2 separate regions of the Homo sapiens genome follow, and region 1 is linked to region 2. Evidence: fine-mapped expression QTL. A gene starts in region 2. The other region holds a variant in brackets. All regions are shown on one strand. Distances are between the middles of the regions.

The links. PIP is the estimated chance that this variant, and not a neighbour inherited with it, causes the effect. A credible set is the group of variants that fine-mapping cannot tell apart.
Region 1: its variant is the best candidate, but not a certain one, in a credible set for the expression of VPREB1 in whole blood (TOPMed, PIP 0.56).

The regions. Positions count from the first base shown.
Region 1 is chr22:22,285,625-22,288,556 of GRCh38, forward strand. LOC105372952 (a long non-coding RNA gene) reads right to left here. Exons shown (of 3, transcript XR_938055.3): 3 at 2,672-2,932. It also overlaps IGL. Among named protein-coding and RNA genes, the nearest start is that of VPREB1, 42 kb to the left of the region's middle. The variant ATCATT/A (reference allele first, on the strand shown) is at 1,595.
Region 2 is chr22:22,243,169-22,246,100 of GRCh38, forward strand. It overlaps VPREB1 (V-set pre-B cell surrogate light chain 1), which reads left to right and starts at 1,618. Exons shown (of 2, transcript NM_007128.4): 1 at 1,618-1,691; 2 at 1,778-2,347. The coding sequence starts at 1,646. The coding sequence ends at 2,169. It also overlaps IGL.

The sequences.
Region 1 (2,932 bases), 42 kb after region 2:
ATCATTTCATCATTTCATCTCATTTCTTCTCATCATTTCATCTCATCATTTTATCTCATTTCATCTCATCTCATTTCAATTTCATTTCATTATTTCATTTCATTTCACTTCATTTCATCTCATCATTTTATCTCATCTCATTTCATCTCATTTCTTCTCATCTCATCATTTCATCATTTCATCTTGTTTCATCTCATTTCATCTCACCTCATCTCATCATTTCATCTCGGCCTTTCATCTCTTCCTTTCATTTCATCTCATCGTTTCGTCTCATCTCATCTCATCTTTCGTCTCATCTCATCTCATCTCACCTCAGCATGTCAACAAAACAAAACATCATTTCTTATTTCATCTCATTTTAGCTCATTCCGGGTGATAGGGTCAATTCAATTTCCTTGCATTATTTCATTTCATCGGATGCAGTGCGGGGGATTTCATTACATCTCATCATTTCCTCTCATCATTACATCTCATCTCATCTCATGATTTCATGATTTCATCTCATCATTGCATCTCATCATTTCAAATCCATCATTCATCTCGGCATTTCATCTCATCATTTCCATTTCATCATTTCATTTCATCATTTAATTTCATCATCTCATTTAATTTCACCTCATTTCATTATTTCATTTCATTTTTTCATTTATGTCATTTCATTTCATCTCATTACATTTCGTCTAATTTCATTTCATCCCATTTCATCTCATCATTTCATCTCATCTTTCATCTCATCATTTCATCTCATCTTTCATCTCATCATTTTATCTCATCATCTCATCAACTCTTTTCATCTTATCATTTCATCATTTCATCTCATCTCATATCTTCTCATCTCATTTCAATTTCATGTCATTATTTCATTTCATTATTTCATGTCATCTCATCTCATCATTTCATCTCATCATTTCATCATTTTATTTCATCATCTCATCTTATCATTTCATCTCATTTCAATTTTATTTCAATTTCATTATTTCATTTCATTTCATCTCATCAGTTCATCTCATCATTTCATCTCATCATCTCATCTCATCATTTCATCTCATCACTCATCTCATTTCATATCATCATTTTATCTCATCTCATCATTTCATCTCATTTCATCTCATCTCATTTCATCATTACATCTCATTTCATCTCATTTTATGTCATCATTTCATGTCATCATTTCATCACATCTCATCGTTTCATCTCATCATTTCATCATTTCATCTCATTTCAACTCATTGCATCTCATCTCATCATTTCCATTTCATTATTCCATTTCATCATTTCATTTCATTATGTCATTTCATCTCATATTTCATCTCATCTCATCATTTCATTTCATCTCATCATTTCATCTCATCATTTCATCTCATTTTATCTCATCTCATCATTTCATCATTTCATCTCATCATTTCTTCTCATCTCATCATTTCATTATTTCATTTCATCTCATTTCATTATTTCATTTGTCATTTCATCTCATTACATTTCATCTCATCATTTCATCCATCATTTCATTTCATCATTTCATCTCATGATTTCATCTCATCTCATCTCGTTATCGCATTTCATCTCATTATTGCATCTCATTTCATCTCATCTC[ATCATT/A]TCATTTCATCATTACATCTCATCATTTCAACTCATTTCAATTTCATTTCAATTTCATCATTACATTTCATAATTTCCTTTCATTATTTCATTTCATTTCATCTCATTTCATTATTTCATTTCATCTCATTTTTCATCTCATTTCATCTCATCATTTCATCTCATCATTCATCTCATTTCATCTCATCATTTTATCTCATTATTTCATCTCATCTCATCTCATTTCAATTTCATTATTTCATATCATTTCATTATTTCATTTCATCTCATCATTTCATCTCGTTTCATCTCATCATTTCATCCATCATCTCATCATTTCATCTCATTTCATCTCATCTCATCTCCTTTCAATTTCTTTTCAATTTTGTCATTTCGTCTCATCATTTCATCTCATCGTTTCTACTCACCATTTCATCTCAAAATTTCATCTCATCATCTCATCTCATCTCATCATTTCGTCATTTCATCTCATCTCAAGTCATCTTATCATTTCATCTAAGTGAAATGATGTAATGGAATCATGAAATGAAATGGATAGGATGCCCTCAGTGATGTTAAATTTAAAAATTGTTTCTTTTCATGTATGCATTTTTATATTTATATGTATTTATATTTATATTTACTTATATTTCTTTTTACTTATTTTTATTTATATTTTTACTTATTTCTTTATTTATAGACAAGGTCCTGTTCTGTGGCCTAGGCTGGAATGCAGTGGTGCATTCACAGTTCACTGCAGCCTCGAGCAAACCTCCCACCTTAGCCTCCCAGGTGGCTGGGACCCCAGGTGCACACCACCACACCTGGTTAATATTTTATTATTTGTAGAGATGGAGTCTTGCTATTCTGCCCAGGCTGGTCTCAAACTCCTGGGCTCAAGCAATCCTCCTGCATTGGCAACCCAAAATGCTGGGATGACAGATATGAGCCACAGTGCCCAACCTATTTATTTATTTATTTATTTAATAAGGACAAGGTCTCACTATGTTGCCCAGGCTGGTCAACTCCTGGACTCAAATGATTCTCCAAACGTGGCCTCTCAAAATGTTGGGATTACAGGTATGAGCCACCATGCCTGGCTAAAAATAGTATTATATTTTTGTATCATATAATTTTCAATTAGGTAATATGAATATTCTGTACAGGAAATACGCCCTTAATTACATAGGAATAAACATTTGTTACACTGAGAAAAATCTAACAGAGCTAAAAATAAAAATTAATTTGGAAAGGTCATTAGATACTGACACATTCTTACGTTTATACATTCTTTCATATATTCATATATTCTTTTAACAGTATCAATGGTTTGGAGTTATGTGTACAAAACCAT
Region 2 (2,932 bases):
TCTCCTCTCCAGGAGTCAGCAGTCACTGGTTAGTTCCCCACTGCCCACCAGCCTGTGCAGAGGAGGGAGGAGCAACAGGTCATAGATGTGGTTGCAGCTGTTACTGGACAGAGTGGTCAAGACATCCTGTGTCTGCAGAGGCCCTCCCCAGCCCTCACCTGGGCAGTGGAGCTGTTGGCCAGAGAGGCAGTGGGAAGAAGGGTGGGGCTCCCAGAGTCGACCCTGCGGGCTGAAACTGGTGCAGCCTGCACCTCACCAGGCAGAGAATGGATGTGGGGCAGCTTGACACCGAGCAGGGGCTCATCTGAGCCTCAGGGGTGGTTGCTCTATCAAAGTGTTTGCAAGTAAACAGTCCCAGTGCACACCCAGCTGCTCAGTGCCACCTCGTGCACCCAGGGACACTTCAGCCTTGATCACAGGCCTGCACAGGTTCCAGGGGAGGAGACACTCCAGCTTTTTGAGGGAGGGTGAGCATGTGGGATCAGAGACTTTAAGTCCAAATTTCCCCTTAATTTTTTTTTAAATCTTGCAGGTAGTATGCAAACATACATTTAATGTATTATTTTTATTCTCATTTTTTTTTTGAGGCAGGGTCTCCCTCTGTTGGCCAGGCTGGAGGGCAGTGGTGAGATCTTGGCTTGCTGCAGCCTCAACTCAACCTCCCAAGCTCAAGTGATTTTCCCACCTCAGCCTCCCAAGTAGTTGGGACTGCAGGTGCCTGTCCGCCATGACCAGCTAATTTTTAAATTTTTTTTGTAGAGATGGGGTTTTGCCATGTTGCTCAGGCTAGACTCGAACTCCTGAGCTCAAGTGATCCTCCCACCTTGGCCTCCCAAAGTGCTGGGATTATAGGTGTGAGACACTGCATCCGGCTCCCAAATTTCCCCTTTTTATAAGGACACCAGTTGTACTGACCGGGGCCCCACCTCTATGACCTCATCTAACCTTCATTAACTCCTTAAAGGCCCTATCTCCAAATACAGGCACACTGGGGGTTAGGGCTTCAACCTATGGATTTGGGGGATGCAATTCAGTCTATCACAGTGCCAAGCTGCACCTGCTCGGTGAGCCAGAACAGGGGTGGGGAAGGCACCAGGCCCTGGTGCTTCTTTCCCATGCCTGAGTCACTCTACTTGGTTCTAGTAGGGAGAGGAGCATGGGCCGAAGGCAGTGCTGCAACATGGAAGGGGCAGAACATCCCAACCCGCTCTGGGCCCCCAGTGTCTTCTGCTGTACAAAGCAGGTGTTTTCACCCCCCGAGGATGTGTCCTCCCTTCCTGGCTCACCAAGCATTTAAATGTAGACAGAAAATTTATTTATCTGGGGTGCGGTTTCCTCAGGGGGAAGTTGAGGTCACGACCCCTGAGGTACCTTAACCCAAAGGCCTCCAGGGCACTGGCCCCAGAGTCTCCAGCAGGTGCTTCCTCCCTGAATGCTTCCATATGGCAAGATCAGAGCCACAAATGCTGCCCCGACGCTGTTCCGGTAACCGACGTTGCAGACCCAAGAAAGTCTGGGATGGTAGTGGCCAGGAACGGGGTGTGCCACGGCCCCACCTCTCAGAGCAGGGAGGAGGATGCTGGGCCAGCCCTTGGGGACCCCAGGCACCGTGGCCACAGGAGTCAGAGCTCTGCATGTCTGCACCATGTCCTGGGCTCCTGTCCTGCTCATGCTGTTTGTCTACTGCACAGGTGAGGGAACCCCCAGATCCCAAAGACTCCTGCCCCTTCCTTCATCCTGCCCTGCCCCCACGGCCCACATGCATCTGTGTCACCAGGTTGTGGTCCTCAGCCGGTGCTGCATCAGCCGCCGGCCATGTCCTCGGCCCTTGGAACCACAATCCGCCTCACCTGCACCCTGAGGAACGACCATGACATCGGTGTGTACAGCGTCTACTGGTACCAGCAGAGGCCGGGCCACCCTCCCAGGTTCCTGCTGAGATATTTCTCACAATCAGACAAGAGCCAGGGCCCCCAGGTCCCCCCTCGCTTCTCTGGATCCAAAGATGTGGCCAGGAACAGGGGGTATTTGAGCATCTCTGAGCTGCAGCCTGAGGACGAGGCTATGTATTACTGTGCTATGGGGGCCCGCAGCTCGGAGAAGGAGGAGAGGGAGAGGGAGTGGGAGGAAGAAATGGAACCCACTGCAGCCAGGACACGTGTCCCTTGAACTGAAGACAGCAGAGGCACGCATCCCCTTGGAGAGACTGTCATGGAAGAGGGTGGAGTCGCCGCCCGAAGCGCCGAGGAGGCTGAGCCACTCAGCATCTCCTGGTCCTGCAGTGTTGCTGTAAATCCCCATTGGAGACTGCATTAGGGAATTAAAGCTGCTTGTCACTTTTTGCTGAGTTTGGTCTGACTGTTGTGCGACTTCGTAGTACCAGCCTTGGGCAAAGGCCCGGGGCCCCGGGAGACTGGCAGATCACTGTGGTGAGCACTCACCTGAGTCCTTACTTTTGTGGGCCATGGGAGGCAAGGGGTTGACCGAAGCACCCTGGAGGGGCATCCATGCCCAGGACAGGACCCTCTGGTGTCATCTGATTCTGCCCAGCGGTTACAGGGCAAACAAGCTTAGAAAGCACCTGGTCTGGGCCTCCAGGGAGAACAGGAGCCAGGTAATAGGCCTAGAGTGGGTTCTCCACCTTGGTCCTATCGACGTTTTGGGCTGGACAGTTCTTGGTTGTGGGGCTGTCCTGCGGATTGTTGAATGGTGAGTGGTTATCTGTGGCCTCTACCCACCAGATGCCCCTTCCCAGTTGTGACAAACAAAAATGTCTCCAGACATTGCCAAATGTCCCCAGGTGGTAAACTCACACTGATTGTGAACCACTGGTCTAGATGAGCAAGTAAATGCATTTACTTATTTGTACAAGAGAGTGGCAGGTGTCGGCAAACATGTTCTTTTTTTCCTTTTTTTAGGGATAAAGTCTTGC